Linked DNA regions of Homo sapiens. The protein of the gene in region 3 purifies or fractionates together with the protein of the main gene of each other region. This does not show direct contact. Each region holds a gene or a part of one and is shown on either strand. Other genes may lie near its edges. The genes, in order: ZDHHC9, ATP2B3, TSPAN5, GDPD1, LCLAT1, DAGLB and ALG11.

Region 1 (4,610 bases), on a different chromosome or scaffold from region 3:
CTCTTTCCCTCAAAATCACTCAACGTAAACAGCTCTATATTCTGTGTATGTCTGGTACCAGCCTTGGAGTGATTTTTTTTCTGTGGTGTAATACCTCGTACTCGAGCCACTGTTTGAAGTCTGTGTAGGTCTCGTCTCTAGGGGAGGTGGCCGGCTGGATTCTAGGGCACTGTGGCGTGTCTCCTGGGTGTGCTGAGAATGCTCTACACTCTAGGGATGGGAGCATTGCTAATTGTTTTGGGATTACTGTGAGGAGGCCTTTGAGAGCCAAGAGGTGTGTGTGTGGACTGTAAGCCACACCTGAGGTGAGCGTGCTATGGTGTATGTACATGGGTGACCTGGAAATGGAGGGCTTATGCTGGGGTGTGTCCATGGGAGGTAGGAGGGGGCACCTTGGCCAGCCTAGTGGGGAAGTAAAATGAGCTCTGGTCCCTTGGGGCTCATTTTTGTCCTTCTGTGAGGGCTTCAGGCTTTCCCAGTGCACCCAGAGTGATTTTTGGGCTGCTTTGCCAGACTTTTGGGTGGTTGCAGCTGGCTTGAGTAACAGCAGGGGGAGGGAGATCCAGTTTATAACGGGGCTGGGAAAGTAAGGTCAGAGGAACTCTTTGTTAAAGGTCCTTTTGCTGCTGCCGCCGCTACTGCTGACTTTGTGAAGTGTTTAGTGAAGTCAGGCAGGTTGCTGAAGGCTTCTTATTTGCTTTCCAGTTTGAGTTTCCTGAATGAGTGTGTGTGTGTGCATATGTGCACGCACGTGCTTGTGTGTGGTACCAGTGAGCATGTGTAGTCAGGCAGGCATAAGCCCCTAGCATTAAAAATTGTTTTTCCTTCTCCTCACCCTTCTCTCCAAGTATTCCTTGCCTCATTCCTGTCCTGCTTCTTCTTGGAAGTGCAAAGCTGACATCTGTTCTTTATCATTCTTCCTCTCTTTTTCTCTTTTTGTCCCCACCCCCACCTCCAGGTTAAATTTTTATTACAACTATTCCAAACAGAGATGAGCCTTGTTCCCAGGCTTTGAGTTAGTTGGTAGTTCTGGGCCCAGGAAACCTCTGGTTTGACTGGCCAGGGGTACTTGAAATTTGGAGGTATTGCCATTTGTCCCCTTTTGTATCTGGGAGCCAGCAGAAGAATCTGACTGGAATCTGTTCCACTGAGGCCCCTGCAGGCCTCTGAAGAAAACCGCTGGTGGGATGAAGCTTCTAATTAGCCAAGTTACCATTTGACAGAGGCAGGTTGAGTTTTCTACCATGATGACTTCCCCCCGCCCCAGGTTATTTCTTGCATTTTGAAGGGTGAGGTTATTTGTAAAACTTACTTGAGTACCAGCTGTCTGTGTGAAAGACTAAATATTTTTGAAGATAGGGCTGGAGGAGGGAGTAGTGGGAAGAAGAGGGGAGAAGGAAGTAAATGTGTTAGCAGAGGAGTGGAGGGGGGAGGTGGAAATGTGACCACAGAGGAGAGGACCCTGGTGATGAATACTTTGTACATGTGTGGATGTGCGTGCTTGTGTATGTGTGTGTGTGTCTGTCATATACAGACACATAGACACTTTAGGTGGTGGCTGCCTTGTGCCTAGCCAGTGACAGGTTGTACAAGGTACACCAGCATGCCTCTGAGGAATGAAATCTCCTTCTGGTCGGCCTTTTTCTTTGGCATCTATAATTTCCTGTCCACCACATAGTGGGGGCAGGGTTTGGGGAGCAGAATGTGGGCTGCTTTGTTAGTATTAGGACTTAGCGCAGTGGCTCATGCCTGTAATCCCAGCACTTGGGGAGGCCGAGGCAGGCAGATCACTTGAGGTCAGGAGTTCGAGACCAGCCTGGCCAACATGGTAAAACCCCCGTCTCTACTAAAAATACAAAAATTAGCCCCGTGTGGCTGTTGTGCGCCTGTAGTCCCAGCTACTCGGAAGGCTGAGGCAGGAGAATCCCTTGCACCTGGGAGGCGGAGGTTGCAGTGAGCTGAGATCTTAGCCTGGATGACAGAGTGAGACTCTGTCTTAAAAAAAAAAAAAAAAAAGAACTTAGTGAGGCCTCAGGAAATCAGTTGATCTAGCCCCCTGCCTTCAGGCAGGTGAGGGTGTCTGAATAGACAAATGGTGATCTATTTTCATTCTTACATTGTCTAGGAGTAGAGACTCCACATCCTCTGGCTGCTGTATTTTTACCTTGTGGGAAGATAGTCCAAATCTTGAGGCACATCTGGAGCTGCATTTTAGTAGCAGGGTCCTGCTTGCAGCAGGTGCTTAGGAACAAGTGTGAGTTGATTTATAGCTGCCTGCAGCACAGCTCTGGGCCAGCCAGATGGCTTGAGAAGTCTGGTCAGGCATGTGGGTGCCCCTTAATGAAAAACGCATAATGTTAGCAGTGCTGGCAGATGTCCTTTTATTTTTGGATTATGCCTTTACATATCTTCTAGAAGACTTTTCAAATGAGTGACCTGTAATTTTCAGTGGACACATAGTAGATTGAATACATAAAACAAAAAAAGTTGTCCATCCTGGGGCCAGTTAGCTCTGTATTGTTAGAGTGTTTCTTTTTTTTTTTAATTATTTTTTATTTTTTATTTATTTTTTGAGACAGGGCCTTGCCCCATCACCCAGGCTGGAGTGCAGTGGCATGATCTCTGCTTTTGCAACCTCTGCCTCCCGGGTTCAAGCACTTCTCCTGCCTCAGCCTCCCGAGTAGCTGGGATTACAGACACCTGCCAAATACAAATAATTTTTGTATTTTCAGTAGAGACAGGGTTTCACCATGTTGGCCAGGCTTGTCTCGAACTCCTGACCTCAAGTTATCCACCTGCCTCAGCCTCCCCAAGTGCTGGGATTACAGGCATGAGCCACTGCGCCCGGCCTGTTAGAGGTGTTTCTGAAGAAGCCGGGGGGTCTCTCTCGGGCCGCTGTCACCGAGTAGAAATTTGGCCAAATATTCACTAAGCCTCTTGCAACTCCAAGAACCTGAAATTCTGTATAACTCTGTGTCTGTCTGGAAGACTCAAATACACACAAAAGGAGATTATAGATTACCAGTAGGTTGCTATATTTAAATATAATTGTATTCATGGTAAACGTATTTAAGTTTAAAAGCAGAGTGAAAAATGGTATAATGCTTAAAGAAAAAGGATTTTCTAATTAATTCTTAGGGTGAGGTATTTAAGAAATGTGAGTGTGTATTGCTAGTTTCAGCTTTGAGCACATGAACAATTTTCAGTTCTTTCTGCTTAAGCTCTATCCAGCTTGTGCGATGAACACATAGCTACCAGCTTGGCCTGAAGTGTTAGGACACTGTAGCAGAATGCCACTGACAACCTAGGAGACATCCAGCTACTGAAAGGCTATCGTGGTATTCAGTCAAATTCAACTTCCTGATAAAGTGTGATCCTGGAGAAAGGAACAAGTGCACTGTCTCCTGGAATTGGCTTCCAGCTTTCTCTTTTAGCTTTCTGACCTGGCCACTAGTGGGATCAAGGTCCTCAGACTTCTCTTGTGGCAAGAATGACTATGAGACTCTTGACCCCTGAAGCAGAAGCAGTTTGCTGCTATAATCAGTGCTTATGGTCTCACTGTGTCCTCTGTATATGAAGGAAATCTTATCAAGGCACTGTCAGACCAGGTTCTGTCAGGTTGGTCCCCATTAGAGCTTTTGATGTATATATTGGCAGAAGAGTCATTGAATTGGATGAACTGAAAACAGCTTTGTAACACTGCTTAGTAATCAATAGTAATCAATACAAACAATACTTTTCTAGCCTATCCAAATTCTACCCCTCTTTCAAATTCTTTCTTGAGTCTTTCTTCATGAAAACTTTCCAGTAATTTCTGCATTCATTGGGCTAATTGTACACACCGCTCATTCAACAGATAATCACATGACATTTCTTATAGTTTGGAGCTATATGGTGATTACACTTCTCACTGTTGTTGTCCCCCGCAGCTAGTCTCTTTCAAGGTCAGAGACTATGTTCAATGGCTGTGTAGCCCCCACAGTGCTCTCTACCATGCCTTACATAGAGTAGATGGCCAATAAGTGTTGCTGAATTAAAACATTCTAGATGTACTTAAAATTTAACAATCTTGACCCACAGAATCATAGGATGGTAGATCTGGAAAGGGCTTTGGAGACTATCTCCCTCCTTGTGTGGGGTGAGGAAACCAGGCCCACAGAAGTGAGTTTCCTTTATCAAGATGAGTTGACCAGCCAACGTCTCTATACTGACTCAGGGCTTTTTCTTCTAATTTCGACATTTTATCTCATTGTTCATTGTTACCCTTTGGCTATGGAATCCTGAAGATATTCAAACACACATGCTTTAGTAAAGTGTACATAGTACCAAATACTAGGCCAGCATATTCCAGATTCTTGCGAGCTAGTGTGTGTGTTACCCAGTGGCATCTAGGCTCTTTGGGTCTCCCAAGCTTATGCTCCTAGAAAATGAAGGCATCTTTGCAGAGAACTGATGGTATTGCAGCATGGCATTTCTGGTAGCCTTGCAGGAACAGGGAAGCCTATCAGGAGCTTTGTGAGTTAACAAGGGATCATCACTGCTGTGGCCACTCCTGGTCCCTGCTGCCAAGATGAGGATGGCTTGGAGAAAAATCAAGCAATGTGTGCTCT
Region 2 (4,610 bases), on a different chromosome or scaffold from region 3:
CCGGGAGGGAGGCAGGAGCATGTGGCTCATGGCAGCTCCACCACAGACTTCATAGGGCAAGCGGGTGGAACCTGGGCAAAAACTGAAGTCTGTGGACAATCGCTATAACCACGTCCAGGCAGCCACAGCCTCAGTAGAGCGCTCATGACTCCAGGAGCTTCTCAAAAGGGACAGGACTTGGGAGGATTCAGGTGGGGAGAGGAGGGAGCAAAGGAGCCGAGGGTCACAGAGGCGGGCATGGTGGAAGAAGCCAGTGGGGCTGTGAGTGCCAGGTGCTGCCACTGCATGGGAGGCTGGTGACGAAGGAAATGATCATAACAGAAGCTGTGTGGACGGAGAGCCTCCTATGGATGTGGATTCACCCACGGAACCCTCACACCCCTCCCCAGAGATAAGTATTCTGTGATCTCCATGCCACCAGGGAAACTGAGGCATGGGAGTAAGGGGGAGTGAAGCTGGGCTGGGCCTTTTGTCCGCAGTGCCTCAGTGTCCCTCAGTGCCCACCAAAAAAGAAGCACAGAAAGAGGGCTGAGGCCCCCACACCAGCAGGGATGGCTCCAGGGAGGAGGTGGTCCTGGCCCTGGCAGTGAGCGCTGCACCTGGCAGAGTTCTGGGAGAGCGCTGTGGGTGGGGCGGCCAGGCAGGGTGCACTTGGTGGTCCAGTCCGCAGAACACAGGAAGGAGCGTGGGCCTGGGCCTTTGGGGAGCCCTGGGCGTCCTGCAGAGGACCTTGCCCTGAGGGCCCTGGGACGGCAGTCATGAGGAGCGAGGTGACTTGTGGACAGAGACGCCAAGGCCAAGGGTGTGGAGTCCGGGAAGGCTGAGTGGGAGTGGGGAAGCCAGGGCATTTGGAGGTGACGCTGTGCACTCTCCCTTACTTTGTTCTAATAGCTTTATTGGGATATAATTCACGCACCACACAGTCCACCCATTTAAAGTAGATAATTCGATGGTTTTTAGTATAGTCACAGAGCTGCACGACCATCACCAGTCTCCAATTCCAGAAAATTTTCATCATCTCTAAGAAAATTTTCATCATCTCTAAGCAACAACAAGAAAATAGATCAACTGGACGTCATCACGATTTAAAACATTTGTGCACCTAAGGACACTATCAAGAGAGTGAAGACAGGCCACAGAATGGGACAGAATGTGTAGAAATCGCATAGCTGATAAGGATCTAGGATCCAGAATACAGAAAAAATGTTACAGCCCAACAATAAAAAGACAAACAACCCAACTCAGCAATGAGCAAAGGGCTAGGACAGACATTTCCCCAAGGAAGACAGGCAAATGGCCAGTCAGCACAGCAAAAGAGGCTCAGCGTTGTTAGTCATCAAGGAAACACAGATCAAAACCACCAGGAGATATTGCCTCACACCCACAAGGATGGCCCCCATCAGCATTGTCACACCAGAAAATAAGTGCTGTTGAAGATGGGGAGAAGGTGGAACCCTCCTATGTCGCTGGTGGGAATGTGAAACGGTGCTGCCCCTGTGGAAAACAGTTTCGTGGACACCACGACCCAGCCATTCCTCTCCTAGATGTCCACGCAAAAGAATTGAAAACATGGGTTCAAACAAAAACTTGTACGTGAATATTCACAGCAGCGTGACTCGTGACAGCCAAAAGGTGGAAACGACTCACGTGCTGGTAGACGTGCTGGTAGACAGATGAAGGGATGGATGGACCAACACAATGCTCTTTAGCATACAATGGATATTACTCAGCCTTAGAAAGAATGGAAGTTCGGGCTGGTGGCAGTGGCTCATTCCTGTAATCCTAGCACTTAGGGAGGCCGGGTGGGTGGATCGCTTGAGCCCAAGACTTCAAGACCACCCTGGGCAACATGAGGAGACCCCAGCTCTACAAAAAATTTGAAAATTCGCTGGGCGTGGTGGCATGCACATGTAATCCCAGCTACGGGGGACACTGACGTAGGAGGATGGCTTGAGGGAAAAAACAAAACAAAACAAAAAAAGAAAGGAAGGTCTAATATCTGAGGGAAACGGAAAAACTTTACACTAAGGAAAGAAGCCAGACACAAAAGGCCACACAGTGTATGAGTCCCTTGATAGGAAATGTCCAGACAGGCAAATCCATACAGACAGGAAGCACATGAGGCTGGGGAGGGGCGTGGGGAGGGCTGCTCATGGGCCTGGGGTTTCTTTCCGGGTTGATGGAGGTGTTTTGGAACTGGGTAGTGGTGACGGTTGCATGATATTGTGAACGTGCTTAATGCCATTCAACTGTACACTGTAAAGTGGTTGAAATGGTGAATTTTACGTTCGGCCTCTTTTACCACGACAATAGAATCAGAAACTCCGTGCGTACCCCGGCACCTCCCTGCTGCTCACTCACTTTTTCAAGAGGATCTCTGAGGCCCCCTTGCTGAAGAGGCGGAAGCCACCGTCGGGCATGCGGATGACTGTGCTCATGGACTTGCGGACCGAGTTGAAGGTGTACACTTTGTAAAGCTTGTCTTCCGGGATCTGCTCGCGCACGGGCTGGAAGTCCCGCTTCAGGTCCAAGACGAAGCCCAGCAGGGCGCACTCCGTCTTATTGCCCACCTGGCGTGGGAGGGCGCCTTCCTTCTCAGGAGGCTGCAAGATGACGAGGGCTAGCAGGCACTGGGGGCCTGAGACCACCCTCCATGCTGCCCCTGGAGCCCCAGCTCTGCCCCCTCGTGGTCACCACATTGTTAGGGTGTGGGCGGCAGGGAGCAGAGGAAGGTCGGCCTTAGCTACAGGCAGTTTCCCAGCCAGAGCCACCTGTGAGGCCAGGGATGGGCAAAAGTTCTCAAGGGGGGGCCTAATGAGCACCTTGCAACAGCTCACCTGGCACCCTGGCCAGGACCCTCCCCTGCTCCTGCCCCCGGCCCTGCCCGCCCGCTCCTGCCCCAGCTCACTAGTATTTTGGTGGTATAGGCACTGTTGATGGAGATGGCATGGACCAGGAGGTCGAGGATCTTAGGGGTCAGGGCGCTGGGGGCCGGAATCTCTTTGTAGTGGGTGTCTCCTAGGTAGGACTGGACCACGGTCATACGGTTGGTGGTGAGCGTGCCCGTCTTGTCGGAGCAGATGGCTGTGGCGTTGCCCATGGTCTCGCAGGCATCCAGGTGGCGCACCAGGTTGTTGTCTTTCATCATTTTCTGCAAAGGGCGAGGGTGTGGGCATTTGGCCCAGGTGCTTGTTGGGGTGGAGGAGTGAGAGATGTCAACACAAACATCGCGTGACTCTGTTCTGCTCAGCTAGCTCCACGTGTGGCACTAAGCCCACTGGGCACCTGGTCAGCCCTGAGCCAATAGCGAGGCTGTAAGGCATCAGCAACCTCATCCAATGGTGGGGGCGGGATGCGCACCCGGGACCTCCCCTGCCCGAGCCCCCTCTCAGTTACCCACCAGCCCTGCAGCTCTCCCACCCCACCACCCCACCACCCCACCACCCCACACCTGGCTCCCCCCACCTCCTCCCACTGCCTCCCAGTGTCCCGGGCCCTCTGCTGATTCTCCGCTTCCCCGCTGCCTCCCAGCCCCTCCGTCCTACTGCCCACATTGTGCAGATGCTGAACCCCTGGGTATCTCACCGCCTGCCTGCTTTCTGGCCCATCTCATGCCGAGGGACCTGAGCTGACAGATCAGCAAAGCTGCCCCCTGGGTCCCTGCTCGGCACCTCCTCTCCTCCCTTGAGCTATCCCAAACGTCCCCAGTTTATACTGCCACCAAGGCGCCCAATGACTTCTTACCCCAGTTTCCGAGTCTGTAAACAGTATCAACTGTAAGTTTTATGATTACCTTGACAGAGTAAGCTAAGGAGATGGTGACAGCAAGAGGCAGGCCCTCTGGGACAGCCACGACCAGCACAGTGACACCAATGATGAAGAACTTCACGAAGTATTGTACATAGACCGGCGTGCACTCTGCCAGCCATGTCCGGCCTTCCACGACAAACGTCTCAATCACAAAGTAGAGGACCAGGATGATGACGGTGATGGCAGACATCACCAGCCCTGCCACAGAGCGGGGAGGAGACGAAAGGGGTTGCCACGGGTGAGGGAAGGAGGGGGACAGGAAGAGGGAAGAAGAGGTATGGACACGGTCTCGGAGGCATTTGTGAAGGCCTTGTAGATTTGCCTTGCGTTTCAGGATAAACAGCCCAGGTTTGGCTCAGCAGGTGAGCTGGGGCCTGTTTGCAAGGGGGCTCTGTGTGGCCTCTTCTGGAGTGCTGCTGGGGTTGGGGAGTGGACTTTGTGGTCTGATGGCAGGAGAAGCACCGCTGGGGAGGACTAGCAAGAGTCAATCCCCCACTGCACCCCAGAAGTTGGGGTACCAGCCCTGCATGCCCCCAGCTGCCTTTTGAGGGTGCCAGGGGCAGAGCCTGGAGCCTTGGGTAGGGGCACCTCATGGGCAGTGGCTCAGTGTGTGACCCGGGCTTTCGTCGAGGGTTTGGGACTTCTGCTCACTAGGGAAGGGCTGCGCCAGGCCCTGATGGCCACTGCCGGCCTGGCCTGTGCCCTTGCCTGCCTGGCCCACACATCACCTGCCACATCCCTTCCCACCTGCTCTACACAGCCTGGGCTCATCTCCAGGAGCCCAGCATCCTCCACGCCCA
Region 3 (4,610 bases):
GGGACTAAACTAGCTGCCCCAGGCAGAATTGTTAAGTGAGTGCCTTCCTTATGAGGGCCCTTCACTTACCCTGCCTCTTGCCTTCCCTTCCTCTCCTCTCTGTGCCCAAAGCCTTCCTCTCAGATACTCCCTCATACCTTTCCTATCCTGCTCTCTGCCTCAAAATTACCCCATATTTAAATTTCCTGCTTTATTGTACCATGGTCTCTAGTGATGATCAACAGAAAGGCAACCATATGGTTTTGGTTAAAGTAATTCAGACTAAGATGTTAGTGACTGAAAAGCTGGGGTCAGTAGCTTGGCAGCTTGCTTCTGAAAAGTTACACACCTCTGCTCTCTACAGAGTCACCAACCTGTCTGTGATTGCCAAAAACAGCAGACTCGGTGCTACTCCCATACAATTATGAAGAAGAGATTGCCAACAGCATGGTTTCCTAATTTTCATTTTCACACTGAACTGCTAGACTACATTTGACATACACTGGTGACATTCAAAGGTATAGTTCTGGTAAAATAAAATTGAACATATGGTGGCACCAGCACTGAGAGCTTGGTTCTTTTCCTGATCAGCAGTTTGGCTCTTCATCAGTTAACTGCCTGGGCCTCAGTTTCTCAGCTGTTAAATTGAAGGAGGTGGATGAGTTATAACGTTCTTTCTAGTTCTTACACAGAATGAGTTTCTTGAGTTCCAATATGCTGGAGAAGAAAAATAGAAGAGTTTGGCCACTAATTTATAACAGAAGTAGTATATACCAGGACACGTGATAAATTATAGACATTTTCTGTTAGGGAGACTTGTCTGAAGACTAGTTTTATTACTTTCATTTCTTCCTCAAAGATCCTTTCATAAAAAACAAACAAACAAAAAACAAAAAACAAAAACAAAAAAAAACCAAGGCTGGGCGCGGTGGCTCACGCCTGCGATCCCAGCACTTTGGGAGGCTGAGGTGGACGGATCACAAGTTCAGGAAATCAAGACCATCCTGGCCAACATGGTGAAACTCTGTCCCTACTGAAATACAAAAAACTAGCCAGGTGTGTTGGCGGGTGCCTGTAGTCCCAGCTACTCGGGAGGCTGAGGCAGGGGAATCACTTGAACCCGGGAGGTGGAGATTGCAGTGAGGCAAGATCACACCACTGTACTCCAGCCTGGCAACAGAGCAAGACTCCGTCTCAAAAAAAACAAAACAAAGCAAAACAAAAAACCTTTCACTAATTTCTTCTTGGCTTGTTCAGTTCCTGGTATAGTGTCCGTGCTTCTCTCTCCCCACTGTGAATCTCAAATGTAGTCCTGTGAGTCATTAAATATATTTTTATTATTAGAATTACAGCTTCATGTATAAAATCTGAATCCTTTTATATAACAGTTGTAATGACATTCTGAGTAACAAAGTCAACATCTTGTACAGATTCCTTTCTCATTAGTTATCACAGGCTGGTGGGGGAAAACTTGTTTCCTCTGTTATATATTGGAACAATTCAAGACAGAAGGGAATTGATTTTATTGAGGGTGTCACCGTACTGGGACATTTCTCAGAAAACCCTGAGACTGCTTTGGGTTTGGGGGAGGGAGAAGAAAGAGGATTTTGTTTTAAAGTCATTTCTTTGGGGTACCGAACACCACATCCCATCACTCATCATTAATAGATGTTTTGCCCTTTTGGATTCTGGCTTTTAACTGTTTTGGATTCTGGATACTTAACTGTTCCCAGGCAAGTAAATTGATCTCAATATTCTGGTTATTTATTGCTACATAACCTCCAAGCTTAGTTGTTTAAAACACAGTTGTTTATTATTATAGTTCACAGTTCTGTGATTTGGCCAGGCTCATCTGGACAGTTCTCACTTGGGGTCTCATACAGTTGTGGTGAGATGTAGTTGGAGTTGGACTTACCGGAAGGCCCTCTGGGCAGGATGCCTGAGATGGTATACTCATATGACTGGAAGCTGATGCTTGCTGGGAGCTTAGCCAGAGTTGTCACTGGAGCACCTACCTACACGTGGCTTCTTCCTGTCTCTAAGTCTTAAAGAAGCTTCCAGCCAGTTAAGGTTCCACTTAGAACTGGCAGTGCCACTTTTATCTATTCCATTGGTTAGAGCACTCATGCAGACTGCTGAATTTCAAAGGGTGAAGAATTAGAAGCCACCTTTTGATGGAGAAGTGTCAAGGTCACATTGCAGAAAGTCATGTAGGTTGTGGCCATCTTTGAAAAATATAGTCTACTGTATTAAGGCACTGAGCCTTAATTTCTTGTTTATAAAGGAAAGATAACATTAATGGTGTTGTAGTTTTAAAGATTCAGTGAGATAATGTTTTATTCGGCATAATATCTCAATATTTAACAAATAGTGAATATCATTACTGTTGTTGTCTCCAGATTTTATACTGGTTCCATACAGGGCTATAGAACTTCTAGAATGCCTTAGTCTAGTACTTTGGCATCATTACTACTAGGTAATGATAATACCCTTAAGATCTGCCAAGAAGATGAGGCAAATGGATTCAATAGATTTTATAGTGACTTGTTAGGAAAGAACTCAATGGAAACGGTGGAATGATTTGGGAGAACCAAGTCATTTTTCTGTTTTCTTTGCTACAAAGGATTAGAAAAGCCTCAGTTACTTGAGGCCAACTTTCTCTTTTGATATGCTTTCAGATATTACCTTGTGTCTTTAAGTGCAAGTTTATCCAGGGTTGATGGCAGGATCTTGCCTCTAATTTGCTTCCACAGGGCTTAATTCAGAGAGGAGGGAGACTCAGGAAACCTTGGGGCGGTGGGGGAGGGGGGGCATCAAGTAGGAAGCTTTATCTTATGATTCACTATAAATTGCAAGATGTTCTGGAATGATGATACATCAGCAGTTTATAAGTCATAATTTTTGTTTTAATTTGCTAGACATCTGTTAGCTTCGATGGCAACCATATGGGAATCTAAATTGCGTTTTGAATTACAGGGAGATGGTAGGAAGAAAGCTAAATATGGTTATGAAAGTGTCATATGGGAAAAGTGTAAGAAAGGTATAAAGTGGGGAAAGTAATTGAATATAGGCTTGCTTAGTGTGGCCACTCCCTCTGTGGGGCAGTATGAAGGCGCAGAAGCATTCTCACTTGATATACTCCGCAGATTGAAATGAAGCCAAGTGGGGAGAAGTTGGAAAACCAAATCATGTTTCAACCACCATAAACTTGCCAAAATGTTGCACTCATTTAGATGGGTCACTTTGTTTTAATGTCCACAGTAATAGGTAGTCCCTGGCAAAAGGTGAAAGCAATCTGCATTTTTAACAGAACTTTTCACTAATGATGTTTTTCTTGTAAGCACCCCAAAGAGTCTTCCAAGAATATTATATCTTTGTGACAGATGAAGAAATTGGAGTACAGAGATGTGGAGTAACTTTTGAGGTGTTGAAGAGCATGTCAAGGTTCAGTTTCAGAGTGTTAAGTCTCTTCCGTAATGATAGCCCCAGCTTTTTGGGTGGAGACTTATTTTAGAAGATGCTTGTTATTCTAAAATAAAACATCAAGTAAGTCATTTACATCTGTTCATAATCGAAAAGTGATAAAGTTTTTGCATATGCCACAATTAACACCACCCACAAGCACAAAAAAGTTAGGATGAAAATGTTCTTCAAGAATATGGTGGAATAATTGTAGCCTATTGAAAATTCATAAATGAAAATTGGAGTATTGTAGACAGCATTCTTGAATCACATGTTTGTTTCTGTGTGTAATACTGATGACTGTCTTAAAATTTCTAACTTCCAAATAAATCATACTCCACTGGATTATAAGGGCTTCAAGTGTGGGGGCTGTCTCACTTTCATAAGCCCAGTGTCTTGCGCATTGTCTGAAACACAGTAGATGTTTTGATAAACGTTTGGGCCAGGCTTGGGGGCTTACACCTGTAATCCCAACACTTTAGGAGGCTGAGGCTGGAGGATGGCTTGTGCCCAAGAGTTTGAGACCAGCCTGGGTAACATAGTGAGACCCTATCTCTACAAAAAAAAATTAAAAATTAAAAATTAGCTGGGTGTGGTGATGCGTGCCTGTAGTCCCAGCCACTTGGGAGGCTGAGGTGGGAGGATCACTTGAGCCTGGGAGGTTGAGGCTGCAACTGCACTCCAGGGTGACAGAACAAGACCCTGTCTCAAAAAAAAAAAAAAAAAAAAAAAAAAGTATGTTGAAGGAAAGAATTACAAAATCATCAGAAAGTACGTAGGAATCATCTCCTCTAACTTCCTAGTCAGTGAAGCATTCTCCATTGTATCGTGCCTACCTTTCTAAGCATGGATCTGTTTTTGGACCACTTTAATTGTAGAGTTTCATCTGTTCAAACTAGATGTTATCTGTCTCCCCATCATTTCCATCCTCCTAATTTACTGTTCATTTAAAATTTTTATTTGGAAACATTAAACCAATAGGAAAATTGCAAGTAGTATAGAGAACCTGTTTTTATCCTGTTTGAGACAAAGTTGCCAGCATGTTGGCTATCACACAAACAGTTGAGTATGTATTTTCTGTAAACTGGACTATTCTCCTAGATCACCACAGTACAACCATGAAAGCCAGGAAATTACCAATGATACATTAACACCATTTAATCCTTAGA
Region 4 (4,610 bases), on a different chromosome or scaffold from region 3:
GTGTGTGTGATGGAGTTTTGATGTTGTTGCCCAGGCTGGAATGCAGTGGCGCGATCTCAGCTCACTGCAACTTCCGCCCCCTGGGTTCAATCAATTCTCTGTCTCAGCCTCCCGAGTAGTTGGAATTACAGGCATCTGCCACCATACCCAGCTAATTTTTTTTTTTGTATTTTTAGTAGAGACGGGGTTTCACCATGTTGGCCAGGCTGGTCTTGAACTCCTGACCTCAGGTGATCCACCTACCTCGGCCTCCCAATGTGTGGGGATTACAGGCATGAACCACCGCGCCCACCCTGAGCAGTACCTTTTTATTGAGAGTTTATTGAATTGTCTCTTTCTATTAAGAAGAAATTGACTGTTTTTCCAAAGTGTATGGAAAATTATTTCCAAAGTATTTTTCTGTATATTTCATCAATTATTTGGTAACACTGAAATGTTTTAGTTTTAAAACATTTTAAGCTGGTGATGGTGGCACACACCTGTAATCCCAGCACTTTGGGAGGCCGAGGATCACCTGAGGTCAGGAGTTTGAGACCAGCCTGGCCAACATGTTGAAACCCCGTCTCTACTAAAAATACAAAAATTATCTGGGTATAGTGGCATGTGCTTACAGTCCTAGCTACTCGGGAGGCTGAGGCAGGAGAATCACTTGAACCCAGGAGGTGGAGGTTGCAGTGAGCTGAGATTGCACCACTGCACTCCAGCCTGAGCGACGGAGCAAGATTCCAACTAAAAAAAAAAAAAATTTAAAACTTTTGGGTAGCATGCATAAAGTTAGTTAACTCTTTTTACATAGTATATAATATTAGACAATATTTTATAATTCAATATGTTCACATCAAAATCTGTGTCCTTTTTTAAAAATTACAATATTATTTATTATTGCAGTTAATGGACATTTACCAAGTACCTATTCTTTACCAGTTACTATGATAATGGCAATAGTAATAATAATTCTAATAATAGCAATAATCCTTTACTTTCATGGAATGTTTACTCTAGTATTTCATTGAATCTAATGCCATTGGTTATAAATACACAATTTTTACATACTGTTAAGAAAGAGACCTCTATAAAAGTTGATTTAAAATAAGAGAGAAAATCTTGCCAATTAAACTGTTCATTATACAGCATTAATTGTAAAATACATCTTAACTTCAGAGATGTTAAGAAATGAAAAGTTATCATTTTAGAATTGAATGGCTGGGCACAGTGGCTTACGCCTGTAATCACAGCACTTTGGGAGGCCGAGGTGGGAGGATTGCTTGAGCTCAGGAGTTTGAGACCAGCCTGGCCTACACAGTGAAACCCCGTCTCTACTAAAAATACAAAAGAATTAGCCTGGTGTGGTGGCGCACGCCTGTAGTTTCAGCTACTCAGGAGGCTGAGGCAGGAGAATTGCTTGAACCCAGGAGGTGGAGGTTGCAGTGAGCCGAGATTGTGCCACTGCACTTCAGCCTGGGTGACAAAGAAAGACTCCATCTAAAAAAAAAAAAAAAAAAAAAAATTGATAAAATACAGCAGTTTAAATATTAACTCATTTGATTATACCAATTCTATGAAAGTTTCTTAGGTAGCTTTTCTAAGGTCACACAATTATTAAACAGATTGGAGACCAAGCATCCTAAAACTCCAGAGTCTCACCCTTAACCACTAGACTATACTGCCTTCAGTCAAGGTGATTAAAACACAGTCACTTCTTTTAAGCAATTCATGGGAATGGGAGGAGAGAAACAGGTAAATAATTTATGCCATAATATGATAAATGCCTTAGTAGAGCTATGCATAAGAGACTATGGGGATACAGAGGAGAGACTGTTTAACTCTGTCTGAGGAGACTTATGTGTACCAAATCCTCTTCTGTCTTTCCTTTGACAAATAAGTGGATATTATAGCTTAAAAATCATGGTTAGGCCAGCCAGGCACAGTGGCTCATGCCTGTAATCCCAGCACTGTGAAGCTGAGGCAGGAGGATTGCTTGAGTCTAGGAGTTTGAGACCAGCCTGGGCAACATAGTAAGACCCTGTCTCTAAAAAAAAAAAAAATTAGCTGAGCATGGTGGCATGTGCCTGTAGTCCTAGCTACTTGGGAGGCTGAGACTGGAAGATTGCTTGAGCTAGGAGTTTGAGGCTGCAGTGAGCTCCGACCATGCCACTGCACTCCAGCCTGGGCAACAGAGTGAGACCCTGTCTCAGAAAAAAAAAAAAAATCAGTTTAGGTTCTGTTTTAACCCTCCTGTGTTACTGTGGCTGTGTTTTGATTTTTGATTTCTACTGTTGCAGCTAAAAAAAAATTCAAAATACAGGTTAAGCTTCCCTAATCTGAAAACCTGAAATGCTCCAAAATCTGAAACTTTTTGAGCACAGACATAACTCCACAAGTAGAAAATTCCTAGTAAAAAATAACATGAGGAAAAAAATTTTTTTCCTCAAATTGTTATTATTATTATTATTATTATTATTATTATTATTATTATTATTATTTTGAGACAGAGTCTCGCTCTGTCGCCCAGGCTGGAGTGCAGTGGTGCAATCTCAGCTCACTGCAAACTCTACCTCCTGGGTTCAAGTGATTCTCCTGCCTCAGCCTCCGAGTAGCTGGGATTACAGATGCCCGTCACCATGCCTGGCTAAATTTTTTTTTTTTTTTGACACAGAAGTGCCTGTAAACTGGGATTACAGGCACCTGCCACCATACCCAGCTAATTTTTGTATTTTTAGTAGAGATGGGGTTTCGCCATGTTGGCCAGGCTGGTCTCGAACTCCTGACCTCAGGTGATCTGCCCGCCTCGGCCTCCCAAAGTGCTGGAATTACAGGCGTGAGCCACTGCGCCTGGCCTAATTTTTGTATTTTTAGTAGAGATGGGGGTTTCACCATGTTGGCTAGGTGGGTCTCGAACTCCTGGACCTCAGGTTATCCGCCCGCCTCGGCCTCCCAAAGTGCTGGGATTACAGGCATGAGCCACCACGCCCAGCCATAAATTTTTTAAAAAGAAAAATATATATATAACGAATTCCACACCTGACCTCATGTGACAGGTTGCAGTCAAAACAAAAGCAAACAACACACGGCTTATTCAGCGTCCCCAAGGGAAAAAAGACTCTTCCAGCTCCCTTCAGTTACAATATATCTTTTCTGAGTATGTCCAGGTTTCCTTATGCAAGCGTGCCCACAAAGGGTAATAAAATGGCACATGTTCAGACTGATCACACCAACAGCAGATTCCCCATGATGCCCTACATGGTGCCAAGACCTATATGCATTATTTATTGTGTGTTTTTGTTTGCTTGCTTGCTTGCTTATTCTCTGCTCTTTGGTATAAAGATGTGAAAATATCAAAAAGGACCACAGATACCCCTATGGGTTATAGTGATGAGAAAAATAGGTAACATTTATGTTTATCTATAGCACAGAAAGTCAAGGTGTTATAGAAACTGAACACTGGTGTAAGTGTGAAATACCTTACAGAGGATATGGTATTAGAATGACCACTATATATGACCTGAAGAAAAAGAAGGATAAACTGTTGAAGTTTTATATATATCAGAAGTAGTATATATAAAGTGGAAGTGATGAACAGAAGTTAATTAAAAATAGAAAAACTGCATAAAGCTAAAATGAAGATCTCAAGCGATGAAGTTAAAATGAAAGGAACTGTGAATATTGAACAGGCCAGTTGTAGAATTTTTTTTTTTTTTTTTTTTTTTTTTTTTTAGATGGAGTTTTGCTCTTGTTGCCCAGGCTGGAGTGCAATGGCGCGATCTTGGCTCACTGCAACCTCCGCCTCCCGGGTTCAAGCGATTCTCCTGCCTCAGCCTCTCGAGTAGCTGGGATTACAGGCATGCGCCACCATGCCCGGCTAATTTTGTATTTTTATTAGAGCTGGGGTTCCTCCATGTTCGTCAGGCTGGTCTTGAACTCCCGACCTCAGGTGATCCGCCTGCCTCAGCCTCCCAAAGTGCTGGCATTACAGGTGTGAGCCACCATGCCCGGCCCAGTTGCAGAAATTTAAGAGAAGACATGGCATTACATTTTTAAAGATTAAAGGTGATTAGCATCTGCTGGTCACGAAGCAGCAAAGAAATACATTGACAAGTTTGCCAGGGTCATTGCTGTTGAAAATCTGACACAAGAACAAGTCTATAATCCTGATGAAACAACACTCTTTTGGCATTATTGCCCCAGAAAGACACTGACTGCAGCTGATGAGATGGAAATTAAGGATGCCAATGACAGAATAACTGTGTTAGGATATGCTGATGTAGCAGGCATGCATAAGTGTAAACTTGCTGTGGTAGGCAAAAGCTTCCTTCCTCACTGTCTTCAAGGAGTGAATTTCTTACCAGTCCGTTATGCTACCAAAAAGGCATGCATGGGTCACCAGGGACATCTTTTCTGATTGGTTTCACAAACATTTTGTACCAGCGGCTCGTGCTCACTGCTGGCAAGTTGGACTGGATGACAACTGCAAGATTTTGTTACTCCTTGATAACTGTTCTGCTTATCCACCAGCTGACATTCTCATCAAAAATAATGTTTATGCCATGTACTTTCCCCTAAACGTGACTTTAGTAATTCCATGTGACCAGGCTATGCTTGGATCAATGAGA
Region 5 (4,610 bases), on a different chromosome or scaffold from region 3:
TTCTTGCTTTTTTAATATAAGTATGCTTTGTTTTGTGATTGGATTGCAAGAGTAGTTGGCAGGATCTCTTAATGTTCATCCAGCAATTTTTTATTGTCTACCACGTACCTAGCATTTTGCTAGGATGCAGTGATGAACAGGACAGATATGATCTCTGTCCTTGAGGAGATAATAGTCCTCTACCTAAAATATCTTATCCTAATTGTAGATTTACAGAGCTTGACTAATTTCTTTTCTGGCTTTCATGTGACTAAAAGTCTTTTTCTTTTTTTAGAGGACAGAAGTTGACTTCTAAGACTATTAATTTTTAGAGTTACATTTTTAAATTAGCTTTAAAGATATGAAGCCCAGTGTTTCATTGCAACCCTAAACATACCATTTGCCATAAAATACTCATTTTTTGTTGCTGCTTAACCACTATCACTCTCTATTTACAAGGTGGGTATTTCTCTATATACATATATTAAGTAAAATAAGAATACTGTTCAGTTTATGTAATATTAATCATCACAAGTAGATACTTCTAAAACGTCATCTACAAACTGTATGTTAAGTAATTTTGCTGTCATCATAAAATCAGAGACATTTCCTATTGAAACATTTGACTGTTTTCATGTCATTTATGTAACTATTTTTAGTGTTTGTTTCATCATCTGTAAAATAAAGAAATTGGAGTAAATGATCTTTGAGATCTATTCTGGATTCAGAATTGTATATCTGATTGTAAAGCAAACATTCAGAGGTAAAAGATTTTTTGTAACAGTCATGTATTGTTACTGTACTCCATTTTCTAAATGTCATCAGTTTTCTATAGTATATAATCCTTTAATTATGAACCACACATTTTTGTTGAATCTTTCTGCCAAAACCTTGAGAGTTCTGAGAATTGGTAAAAATTACTACAGTTGTAATGCTTTACAGTGTCCAGTCACTCTAATTTTTGGAGAGCGAGCATAAGCAGAGTGCTTATTTTCACAGACATTGCAGACAGATATTTGGTTTCACTATTGGCCTTCCCACTTTCTAGTCATTTGAACTTGGCTAAGCTCCTTAGCCTCATTGTAAGCTTTTGTTTCTTCATCTCTATAAAAAGGAGTCTTAATACTACCTACTTACATCAGAGAGTCATTGTAATGACTAAATGAGGTAATAAATATATAGCCTTTTTAGTATAATGCTTGCCATTTGGTAAGTACCCGGTAAATATTTGGTATTATATTAATTTTAGTTTTAGTTTTAGTTTTGCTTTTATATTAATTTTAGGCTAAACTGGTGTTTTGGAGAAAATTCAAAATATAGTGGCTCCAATACAGTAGAACTATATTGACTTACAGGTCCAGGCTGGCAAGGTCCCTACGGTCCCTGATGTCATCAAAGGGTTCAGATGTCTTCTATCCTGTTAATCCACCTAGCTTGGCCTCCAGCCTGGTATAATGTCCTCTTGTATTTGGTCAAGACTGGGTCACTGCCACTTCTTTGCCCCACTCTGGAGGAAGTCCAGAGCAAATGCTTTCTTTCTATACCAGTGACTCACGTGTGTAGTACATAGCAAGTTGCACATATCACTTTTGCTTACTCTATTGGTAAGAGCAGCTAAAAGCTGTAATAGAATCTGGGAAATGTCTTTTTTTTCTGGGCAGCCATGTGCACAGTTAAAATTCTTAATCTGGAAGAAATGCTGGTATTTATAGGACAAGTTACCAAACAAATTCTGCAATAGCTATTTCTGCTATTATTACTGCTAGTAGCATTACTATTACTGCAGAATTACATTATACACCTACAGTATTTGTACAGTTTCAATTACATGCACTAAGGTAAGGGAAGAGTGGGCAGAGAAGAGAATGAATTTTTTTCTGCTTCATGTGAGATGAAATAGGAAATATGAGTGGTTCTCTGCTGAGTGTGATTCTTGTGTTTAAAGATAGATATTTTTAAACAATATACAAACCAATCACTTTGTCTGATGGTCAGGTAGGGTAATATCAATATAGTACAATTTTGGGAGAAGATTGGCTGAGCTGGACTTACTGATAGTGTGATCTTTTGAGATGCACCATCCTATGAGATTTTCAAAGATAATTTCACCTATTCCTAACTTTTGTCTTATTAGCTGTTTGGACAGTTTAACACATGGGTAAGATTTAACTACCACAGTACTAGTAAAAAATTAGTATACATTTGGAAAACTGCTGTCACTCAGCTGTTTAGTTTACTAGTTACAGCATATCAGACAGAGAAAGTTTTTTTAGTTAAGAAATGTATAGATGTTGAATTCCTTATAGCTAGGTTACAGAAAAATTGATATTCTAGTTTTGAGATAGTGAACATCTCTGTTGAAGGAAACAGAGAAGAACCATCAAGGGTGTCTTTTATCACCTTTTATCTCATACTCGTACAAGGAGCTAAAGGAGTTTTTAAGCAATAATAAAATATATTCTTTTTAAATTCAGAGTGAATTTAATCTAAAAGCTTTTCTTCTATCCCTTATTGATGTACTTTATTTTAAGCAATCCCAAACAGTTAAAAATAATTTTCCACTAAAAATAAATTAGGATAAATGCACTTAAACTAATTATTGCTTCACAAAAATAGTCACAAAATGATCTTCTCTTTCATTAAGTTTCTCTTGTGGATTAAAATGATTTTGTTGGCAAGATTTTTCTTGTCTTACTATTTTTAAGGAGCACATTTCTGTGCTAAAAGAGGCATAGCAGTGAAATGTTTTAGAATCTTAGATGAGACTTAGAGGTCACTTTGTCTAACCTAACTCTGTGGGCAAGAATCCGTTCTAGAACTATCTGCAGGGTGACCATTCAGTCTTTCTTTGAATGTTTCTATAATTCGGAGTGCATGCCTTTGTTCCTTTTATTTTTGGACCATTCTGTTCAACATAATGAATATTGTAAGGGTCAAACTCAGCATGTGCTCAGAGCAGTTTTTGCTTCTCAAAATTCTAACTAACCGACAGTCTGATTACTACCTGGGATTATGAAAATTACTGGAGTTCTGTCCTTTCACCATAAATCATGCCTTAGGAATTTAGAGGTCATTTTCTAACTGTCTACCCAGGGCACAAGTTTCTTCCACAGCCTTCTGATACCATTCCAGTCCTAGCACAAAACAGGTGTTGAATAAACATAGATTGCTGAATGTGATTTTTGTCTACACTGTTGCTCTTAACAAAGTGGGTGCTCAGTGTTTTGAAGAATGAGTTGGGATTGCAAAGCCTCAAGTAGCTAGGGATTTGGAGAACCAGACCTAATCTGAGCCTGAAAAGCAAAAGCAGACATGGAGATGAGTTGTTATTACCTCAGACTAAGTAAAGATCCATCAGAATGATAAATGAGAGTGAGAGCAGCGGGCATGATGGTAAAACTTTCTCTGTGATCTTGAGAGGAACCACTCTCATCTTTGTGTTTTTATACACAATGGAACACTTGGACATAGTAAGTAGTGGTATATAAAAGATCCTTGGAAAATGCTTCCATATTTCTGTTAAATAATACACAGAGAAATCTTTGACCAATTAGGTAAAAATTATCAGAATTGTTACTCTTCAATATAAGAAACAATGCATTATAAAATTTTGTTAGATTTATTACTGTTGACACTATTATCTCCTATACTAGCAATAAAATAAACATGAGAAATGTGAGAATAGTGTCTTTTTTCCCAGTCTTTTAGTCTGGATTAATTGAATTCTGGAGTTCTGTATAGATATTACAGCTTTATTTCTGTGTAGTATATTTGTTTTTCTGCCTTTGCAGGAGCTGTAAATAAGGTTGACTGGATATGTCTCATCTGGTATTACAACCAATTAATGTGGACTTGAGATCTTGGCTGCCCAAAGGTTATTTATAACTTTCAGGCATATTCTGGTAGAATGCTGGATGTCAAGGGAGAGGATGTCATGTTATATGAGATGTTCCTGGACACATGGTCTTGATTGTTGTTGTTGTTGCTTTTTTGGAGACTACATTCTCTTGCCCAGCTGGAGTGTAGTGGTGCAGTCAGATCTCACTGTAACCTGAAATTCCTGGACTCGAGTAATCCTTCTGCCTCAGCCTCCTGCGTAGCTAAGGCTCTGGGCATGTTCCACAATGCCTGGCCTTTAAAAATTTTTTGTAGAGCTGGAGTCTTGCTATGTTGCCTAGGCTAGTTTCAAACTCCTGGCTTCAAGCGATCTTCCTGCCTTAGCCTCCCAAAGTGCTGGGATTACATATGTGAGCCACCACACCCATCCCAGTCTTGGATTTTTTATGTTATTTTTCATAATGAAAAGCAAAGGATTGTTTGGGATCTATAGGTATCATATATTAGAGATTGCATATATAGGTTTAGATTTGAGGTTTGGAATTTATAGGCTTAAGATTTTTAACTCTTGGCCGGGCACGGTGGCTCATGCCTGTAATCCCAGCACTTTTGGAGGCCAAGGCGGGCGAGTCGCAAGTTCAGGAGTTCAAGACCAGCCTGGCCAACGTGGTGAAATCCTGTCTCTACTGAAAATACAAAATATTAGCTGGGTGTGGTGGCGGGCACCTGTAATTCCAGCTACTCGGGAGGCTGAGGCAGGAGAATCACTTGAACCCGGGAGGCAGAGGTTGCAG
Region 6 (4,610 bases), on a different chromosome or scaffold from region 3:
AGGAGGGACCCCGGACATCTGCGTCTGGGCTGGGGCCCGCAGTCACCGAGCCTTTTCCTCTCTCTGTCTTGCAGTTGGATCATCATCGCTGCCACAGTGGTTTCCATTATCATTGTCTTTGACCCTCTTGGGGGGAAAATGGCTCCATATTCCTCTGCCGGCCCCAGCCACCTGGATAGTCATGATTCAAGCCAGTTACTTAATGGCCTCAAGACAGCAGCTACAAGCGTGTGGGAAACCAGAATCAAGCTCTTGTGCTGTTGCATTGGGAAAGACGACCATACTCGGGTTGCTTTTTCGAGTACGGCAGAGCTTTTCTCAACCTACTTTTCAGTAAGCCGAGGGGATCTGGTTTGGTCTGTTTCTTCTGTTTCAGTAAATGCTTCTGATGGAGCCGGTCCCTCTGTTCCCATAAAACCGCGTTTGAGAACCTGGTGTCTTTGGGTGTGTGGGGGGTGGCCGGAGACCCTCTGTCTGTGATGAGCCCTCCAGGGAGCAGTTAACTGCAAGAGCCACACCTTCTCAGACCCTGTGTCCCAATAGGACATGTCTTCGTATTGACACCCACTCACTACCCTGTCAAAATGCTGGATTAGCCTGTAAGGAACCACATAACGGACGCTGTACCCTTTGAGAATAATTTGCAGCTGCTGTTGAGCAGATACCAAGCACAGGCAGTGGCATGAATCGAGGTTGGAATCAGATAGTGAGTGACTTCTTACCACTTTGTATCATGATGGAAATGATCGACGATGCTACTTTTGGAAGACAGTTTGAATAGATGATTGCAGCACAGAAGGGAGCGTCATTCTAGAGCGAGTTCTTCCGCAATTTGAAAATGCTTGTTTTTTTTTTTTCACATGCAGCGTGTCATCTTTTTATATGACATTCTCTGCTAAATGCTGTTAAATTCCATACTGAGATGAGGTAAGGGAGGAAGAGTTCTCTGCTTATCCTGCACACCTGCCAGTCTCTCTTCCCACCTCTGTGCTATCCGACTTGGCACCATTCAGGGCTGGTCCTGGAGCCTGACACCAAGTCATAGCAGCAGCCTCCGTAGAGGGAAGAGGGAAGCGTGTCCCCTCAGTAACTTAAAGAAGTGCTTAAACCTAGTCTTAAGATATCTGGAAGAGGGAAGAAGAGAAGCTGGTTATTTCTAGAGGATGTCGTAATCTACATCACAGGCAGAACTGATGGCTCAGTGGCTGAGTGGCCAGTATATTGTCTTTTTTTTTTTTTTTTTGAGACAAGGTCTCGTTTTGTCACCCGGGCTGGAGTGCAGTGGCGCCATCTTGGCACAACCTCCACCTCCTGTGTTCGAGAGATTCTCCTGCCTCAGCGTACTGAGTAGCTAGAGTACTACAATAGCTGGGATGACAGGCACCTGCCACCACGCCCAGCTAATTTTTGTATTTATAGTAGAGACAGGGTTTCACCATGTTGGCCAGGCTGGTCTCGAACTTCTGACCTCAGGTGATCCGCCCACCTCGGCCTCCCAAAGTGCTGGGATTACAGGCGTGAGTCATCGCACCTGGCAGTATATTGTCCATTCTTACGGGCTACAAGTACCCGGAGGTGATTGAGAATTCCTAATTCCTCCATTTCCTGGAGAAAAAGGACATGTCAGGCCTAAGAAGACTCACTCTCTGTTGCTTTCCCAGCTTGGGGTCCTTTATGAGGCTTGCCATACCCTGTGAGTATGAGTTTAGTCTCATAAATCTCTACCATCCACTGTGTTTCAACAAAACCTTCCCAGCATCTTGAGAAATGAGAGTATAAACGTGGGCTAAAATGGTGCATTGCTACAAAAACGGACAATTTATCCATTGATTTCTCCACTTTACAAAATATTTGAAGTAGATTAAAAATAGTTGAGTCACATGAAGTGAAATTTTAAGACAGACGAATAGCATTTTTATATTCTCCAGTGGACTTGTCTGAGGGCAGGATGTGAAAACATATTCAGGTCACATAGAGAAGCACTCCTGCCAGGAGCAGTCTTTTTAACATACCTCTGTGTCTAGAAATGTCTGTGTGTGCGTGAATGCCTATCAACTATAGAAGACTGGATTTTAGGGAACCCGGGGGTGGTGCCTGCTGGGTTTTATGACAGGCCATTGTGGTTTCCCACCCAGGACACAGATCTGGTGCCCAGCGACATTGCGGCGGGCCTCGCCCTGCTTCATCAGCAACAGGACAATATCAGGAACAACCAAGAGCCTGCCCAGGTGGTCTGCCATGCCCCAGGGAGCTCCCAGGTGAGCCTGGCTTCATGGAGTGTCCAGTTCTGACACTTACACCTTTTGGTGGGTCTTCAGAATCATACAGCTAACCTATAGCAATTTCTTCCTCCCTTCCTTCATTCCCCTTTCCCCTCCCTCCCCTCCCCCTCCTCCCCTTCCCTCCCCTCTCCCACCTTTTTTTTTTTTTTTTTTAAGACGGAGTCTCGCTCTGTCGCCCAGGCTGGAGTGCAGTGGCACAATCGCGGCTTACTGCAAGTTCTGCCTCCCAGGTTCACACCATTCTCCTGCCCCAGCCTCCTGAGTAGCTGGGACTACAGGCGCCTGCCACCACACCTGGCTAATTTTTTTTCTTATTTTTAGTAGAGACGGGGTTTCACCGTGTTAGCCAGGATGGTCTCCATCTCTTCACCTCATGATCTGCCCACCTCAGCCTCCCAAAGTGCTGGGATTACAGGCGTGAGCCACCGTGCCCAGCCTCCCCTCCCCTTTTTTTCTTTTTCTTTTTATGAGATGGAGTTTTGCTCTTGTTGCTCGGGCTGGAGTGCAATGACACAATTGGCTCACCACAACTTCCACCTCCCGGGTGATTCTCCTGCCTCAGCCTCCTGAGTAGCTGGGATTACAGGCGCATACCATCACACTCAGCTAATTTTTTGTATTTTTAGTAGAGATGGGGTTTTGCCATGTTGGCCAGGCTGGTCTCAAACTCATGACCTCAGGTAATCTGCCTGCCTCGGCTTCCCAGAGTGCTGGGATTACAGGCATGAGCCACCACACCGGGCCTATTTTTCATTTTTTTAACTTTTATTTTAGGTTCAGGGGTACATGAGCAGGGTTGTTACACCGGTAAACTCATGTCACGAAGGTTTGTTGTACAGATTATTTTGTCACCCAGGTACTAAGCCTAGGACCCTACAGCAGTTTCATTAGCAGCAGGGTTGGAATCTGATTGGCGGCTTCCACTGGTTGTATTGCATCACCTGTCAGGTGAGGCATCTTCGTTATCAACTGGAGTTCAGGTAGTGGGAACCCATTCCTGGCCACTTTATCATCCATCATATCTTTATTTTTTATTTTATTTTTTGAGACAGAGTCTCTGTCACCCAGGCTGGAGTGCAATGGCATGATCTTGGCTCACTGCACCCTCTGTCTCCTGACTTCAAGCAATTCTCCTGCCTCAGCCTCCACAGTAGCTGGGACTACAGGCGTGCACCACCATGCCCAGCTAATTTTTGTATTTTTAGCAGAGACGGGGTTTCACCGTGTTGGCCAGGCTGTTCTCAAACTCTTAGCCTCAAGTGATTTGCCGGCCTTGGCCCCCCAAAGTGCTGGGATTACAGGCGTGAGCCACTGCATCCGGCCACATTTATCATATCTTTGAAGGCTTATGTTTTAGGAAATTTGCTGTTCAATTCTATGCATTAGAACAATTCCTCCTGGGATGGGGACTGCGATTCTCCCTGGGTGTGTTTGCTTTCTTCTCTGGGGCTGGGGGCAGAAGCAGTTCAGCTTTGCTTGGTGATAATTTTCCTGCCACAGGTTGTTATGTTTTTGAGAAAGAAAATTGCACGTAGACGGTATGTATCTTCGCTGCTCCGGGTTAAGCCACTCAGTTCTTGACAGCTCGTGTGTGGCAGTGGCATGGAAATGTACTAGTTTCAGGCATCTAGATAGGAAGCGCCGGCTCATTTCAGCAAAAACAGCAGAGAAGTCATTGGAGTGTTTTTTACTGTTAACTTCCCCGTGCTTGCTGTGTTCCTATAAAATGAGGAGTCAGGCTGGGCGTGGTGGCTCACGCCTGGCTTCCCAGCACTTTGGGAGGCCAAGGCAGGTTGATCACCTGAGGTCGGGAGTTCGAGACCAGCCTGGCCAACATGGTGAAACCCCGTCTCTACTAAAAATACAAAAATTAGCCGGGTGTGGTGGCGGGTGCCTGTAGTCTCAACGACTTGAGAGGCTGAGGCAGGGGAATTGCTTGAACCTGGGAGGCGGAGGTAGCAGTGAGCTGACATTGTGCCACTGCACTCCAGCCTGGTGACAGAGCGAGACTCTAAAAAAAAAAAAAAATGAGGAGTCCATGTCATCCTTATTGAAGGAGCAGTTTTGCCTGTGGGCGTCTGAGAGTTCTATTCAACGAAGGAGCAGGAAGAGTCAGGAATGAGTTCAGGTTTCAGGTCTCAGTGTGTTGATCCTCTGTGTCAGGAGTTCCCTTAATAAACAGTAGTTTTTGTCCTTCTCTTGTAGGAAGCTGATCTGGATGCAGAATTAGAAAACTGCCATCATTACATGCAGTTTGCAGCAGCGGCCTATGGGTGGCCCCTCTACATCTACAGAAACCCCCTCACGGGGCTGTGCAGGATTGGTGGT
Region 7 (3,462 bases), on a different chromosome or scaffold from region 3:
CCAAAACGAATCACCACACGTCACAATAAAGAAGAAAAACTGTAGGTTGTGTAGCTGGAGAAGTGACAGTCAGGGGCCCTGATTCCACTTCCTTTGGTCCAGTTTTACTCTGCTACAGGGTGGATTCCAAAACTGGCTCAGCACATTGCATGTAGTTGAGCCACATTTTTTAAAAAAAGAAAATGGATGACCATTAATTGACTAGCATTTTAGAATTGATCAGACATTAGAACACAGAAAAATTCTAGTACATTTAAATTCTAAACAATACAGTGGATGACCCTTTTGAATATACCTAATGATTTCCTTAAAAAAGAAATTTTAAACAGACTTGTTTAATCGTGTTCTCAAAGCATACAGTCAAGAGGTGGGACTGACTGATGCTTTATAGGTGTGTGTAGGGTGGTAGAGGCCAAGGTGCTGCCAGCAATCCTTTCCATACTAGGTACTGGTGAAAATTGTTTTTGTTTATGCTGTCAGCACATTTGTGTGGGTCTCTCATTGTCCCTTAACAGTGCCGCATCTCAGCCTGGAAGTCAGCTTTAAGTCATTCAAGAGAACCTCAGGCTGTTTTTCTGACAGTGATGATATGATATACAGATACATCCACAGGGTATCTATTACCAGCATAATGCATTGTAAGATGGCAAGGTGGCATTTTGAAAGAGCGCTGGGCAAGCAGTTAGCACATCTGGGCCTACCTTCAGCTTCTTCATTTACAAACTTCTGACCTTTTGACACTAAAGCTGCTCCTTTATCTTTCTGAGTCTCAGATTCTTCATCTGTAATCTGGAGTTGTTAATTCCAGTCCTTACTACCTTTTAGAGTTGGAATGAGATGGAAAGTAGATGAAACTACTTTGAAAATTACGACAGTTAAGGGCTGGGTGCGGTGTCTCACACCTGTAATCCCAGCACTTTGGGAGGCCGAGATGGGTGGATCATGAGGTCAGCAGTTGAGACCAGCCTGAACAACATGGTGAAACCCTGTCTGTACTAAAAATACAAAAAAATTAGCTGGGCCTGGTGGCAGGCACCTGTAATCCCAGCTACTTGGGAGACTGAGGCAGGAGAATTGCTTGAAACTGGAAGGCAGAGGTTGCAGTGAGCCAAGATTGTGCCACTGCACTCTAGCCTGGGCAATAAGCAAAACTCCATCTCAAAAAAGAAAAAAAGGAAAAAGAAAATTATGAGAGTTACTTAAAGGTAACATCACATACTAAATGTCTTCTATAATCCTATATTTATTAATGCATTACAACTCTGTAGATTGTTAGTTACTAGGCCAGTAGCTAGGAATTGGTATAAATTTAATGCACCTTCTATCCTGAATAACTAGCATGGAAAAGTGAATATATGTGTGAGCAGATATGGCTATAAAGACCTATAGCTTTTGCACTTTATGCATATATAATCAATCCTTTCTAGTTCAGTGAATTGACCCCATCCACAGGCTGATTCATCTTTGTGTTAAGGGGCAAATGAAACGGTATATTATTTCTTTGCAGTCTCCTCTCAGTCATTCATCAATGTGGCCAGCTTATCTACTCCCAATTATGTTGTTGATACATCTCCAAGCCATCTGTCATCAGATCAAAAAGCAGCAAACAGAGGGTCAGTCACAGGATGTTCTGACACACCATTGTAACTTTTTGTTAGAGATGATCCCATTTAGAAAAAGACTGGTAGAAATTGGAGTGAAAGGAACCCTACAGATTAGCCCAGTTCTCTCTTATTTTCAGCTTTACAGACAAGAACAATTTAAATCTAAAGAATTTAGTAGATTCCTTCAGTGTCACAAAGCTGTTTCATGAAAGAATCAAGATTATAACCTGGATATTCTGACTCCTGGCCCAGTGCTTTTTCTTACTTTGTAGCTACACTTTGAAGTAAGATTCAAACTGTTATCCACTCAATTGCCTTATTCCTGAGGATGTAGTGAAGGAAGAAAAAGTTTTCTGGAATTCCGTAAATTATATTTTAAGCTTATTTCTTCAAAATTATTTTCATATATCACAGATATATCATTGGAAGATATAATTTGCATATATGTTCATTATCAGTGTTCCTAATTTGGTATTACATGTATTCTATTTTTTTCTGAATGATAGCATGAAAAGTGTCAAAGTGGTTTGTCCGCTAGCGTCTGTCTGCAGAACTTTCAGGATGACTATTAATTCCTCTCAGATGTCATTTTTGAGTGGTCCAAGCCTGCTGTTTTGAACCCACAGCAGTGGAGATTTGTATTCTTATTTACAGTTGTGTACTATAAAGTGTGTGTTACATAGGTTTTGTGTAATAATTATTTGTAAATATTATTTAGATTTGTATTTAGACATGATTTATATCTAATATAGATACAAAGTCTGTGTCTAAATATTATTTAAAGAAGTGATTTTTCATTCTCTTGGATTCTTTCCAGTGTGGTGCCTTTTATATGCCTCACATAGTCTCCTTGTTCTCCTACTAATATTCCCAAGCTCCATATGCCAATTAAAGAAGAAACAAAAATAAAAGTTTGTCTTGCTTGTGAAACATTAAGAAGAGGCTGTCAGGTTTAATAAACTTTTTAATGAATATTTCAGACATAACAAAAAACTGCAGAGCTTCGTACACTTGATTTAAATAATTCTTGAGGGATTTTATAAGGTCATCTTATAGACAAAATTAAGAGACACCAGTGTGGTTATCAATGCTTTCAGAATACTTGTGTTTATGTAAATATACCCCAGAGTCCAAAACTCTGATATATTCATATATATTCACAATGAGAGGATGTCTGTGCCAAATCTGTCAATCAGTACAATAGAAAAGTTAATTATATAACTACAACACGAAACACAAATTTTTAGAAGCAAATTATGTCCTGTAATTTACCCCCCTCCCCGCTGCTCCTCTGCTAACTCATTTTCCTCTTTTCCCACTCTAAATGTAAGGCAACCCTTGGCTTTGGAGAAGCATCTGTTCCAATATTCTGGTGCTATGTGCTCAGTTGTACTATATGCAAATGTTACTAGACACAGAGGAGGTCAAAGTGTTGATACACTTATTGCTACCATTTACAGAATGATCAATTTGATAGCTATCATACATGGCTAGCAAGACACTGATTTTTCTAATAAAAAAATTTTTAATGCATACAGGTCTGGTGAACAGTTTCAATTTAACGGATGAGGCCAAGGCTAAAGCCAGAGTAAAGTAATCAGAGCCATGCCTCAGGAACACGATTTAGCTAATAGTGTGTGTAAAATGGGTAAGGTCTAGAATTAGGGACTAAAATCAGCTGAAAGTGTTGCAGATATGTATACTTATCACAGTGAATACTTCCAGTTTACAGCAAAGAATTCAAAATTGTTGAGTAAAGCTTGGTGACTATTACCTAAAATAGACTAGACTTTAGCCAAGCATCTTTTATCATGGGAACAAACCCGATAACCTGACATGCTTTTTTTTTTTTTTTTTT

Evidence for each region.
Region 1: the proteins of TSPAN5 (region 3) and ZDHHC9 purify together in Homo sapiens (affinity purification with mass spectrometry; 3 studies listed by BioGRID and IntAct, with this or other methods). This does not show direct contact.
Region 2: the proteins of TSPAN5 (region 3) and ATP2B3 purify together in Homo sapiens (affinity purification with mass spectrometry; 3 studies listed by BioGRID and IntAct, with this or other methods). This does not show direct contact.
Region 4: the proteins of TSPAN5 (region 3) and GDPD1 purify together in Homo sapiens (affinity purification with mass spectrometry; 3 studies listed by BioGRID and IntAct, with this or other methods). This does not show direct contact.
Region 5: the proteins of TSPAN5 (region 3) and LCLAT1 purify together in Homo sapiens (affinity purification with mass spectrometry; 3 studies listed by BioGRID and IntAct, with this or other methods). This does not show direct contact.
Region 6: the proteins of TSPAN5 (region 3) and DAGLB purify together in Homo sapiens (affinity purification with mass spectrometry; 3 studies listed by BioGRID and IntAct, with this or other methods). This does not show direct contact.
Region 7: the proteins of TSPAN5 (region 3) and ALG11 purify together in Homo sapiens (affinity purification with mass spectrometry; 3 studies listed by BioGRID and IntAct, with this or other methods). This does not show direct contact.

What each region holds. Positions count from the first base shown.
Region 1 is NC_000023.11:129,836,630-129,841,239, reverse strand, and holds part of ZDHHC9 (palmitoyltransferase ZDHHC9), read left to right. Parts: intron 1-4,610. UniProt on the Homo sapiens protein: Palmitoyltransferase that catalyzes the addition of palmitate onto various protein substrates, such as ADRB2, GSDMD, HRAS, NRAS and CGAS. The ZDHHC9-GOLGA7 complex is a palmitoyltransferase specific for HRAS and NRAS.
Region 2 is NC_000023.11:153,548,038-153,552,647, reverse strand, and holds part of ATP2B3 (plasma membrane calcium-transporting ATPase 3), read right to left. Parts: intron 4,009-4,610; coding exon 3,794-4,008; intron 3,152-3,793; coding exon 2,909-3,151; intron 2,604-2,908; coding exon 2,362-2,603; intron 1-2,361. UniProt on the Homo sapiens protein: ATP-driven Ca(2+) ion pump involved in the maintenance of basal intracellular Ca(2+) levels at the presynaptic terminals. Uses ATP as an energy source to transport cytosolic Ca(2+) ions across the plasma membrane to the extracellular compartment.
Region 3 is NC_000004.12:98,651,431-98,656,040, reverse strand, and holds part of TSPAN5 (tetraspanin-5), read left to right. Parts: intron 1-4,610. UniProt on the Homo sapiens protein: Part of TspanC8 subgroup, composed of 6 members that interact with the transmembrane metalloprotease ADAM10.
Region 4 is NC_000017.11:59,226,687-59,231,296, forward strand, and holds part of GDPD1 (lysophospholipase D GDPD1), read left to right. Parts: intron 1-4,610. UniProt on the Homo sapiens protein: Hydrolyzes lysoglycerophospholipids to produce lysophosphatidic acid (LPA) and the corresponding amines. Shows a preference for 1-O-alkyl-sn-glycero-3-phosphocholine (lyso-PAF), lysophosphatidylethanolamine (lyso-PE) and lysophosphatidylcholine (lyso-PC).
Region 5 is NC_000002.12:30,526,598-30,531,207, forward strand, and holds part of LCLAT1 (lysocardiolipin acyltransferase 1), read left to right. Parts: intron 1-4,610. UniProt on the Homo sapiens protein: Exhibits acyl-CoA:lysocardiolipin acyltransferase (ALCAT) activity; catalyzes the reacylation of lyso-cardiolipin to cardiolipin (CL), a key step in CL remodeling.
Region 6 is NC_000007.14:6,430,485-6,435,094, reverse strand, and holds part of DAGLB (diacylglycerol lipase-beta), read left to right. Parts: intron 1-74; coding exon 75-333; intron 334-2,135; coding exon 2,136-2,258; intron 2,259-4,487; coding exon 4,488-4,610.
Region 7 is NC_000013.11:52,031,061-52,034,522, forward strand, and holds the end of ALG11 (GDP-Man:Man(3)GlcNAc(2)-PP-Dol alpha-1,2-mannosyltransferase), read left to right. Parts: coding exon of another isoform or gene 1-45; 3' UTR 46-2,540; downstream 2,541-3,462. Other genes in the region: UTP14C (U3 small nucleolar RNA-associated protein 14 homolog C), read left to right, coding at 1-45. UniProt on the Homo sapiens protein: GDP-Man:Man(3)GlcNAc(2)-PP-Dol alpha-1,2-mannosyltransferase that operates in the biosynthetic pathway of dolichol-linked oligosaccharides, the glycan precursors employed in protein asparagine (N)-glycosylation.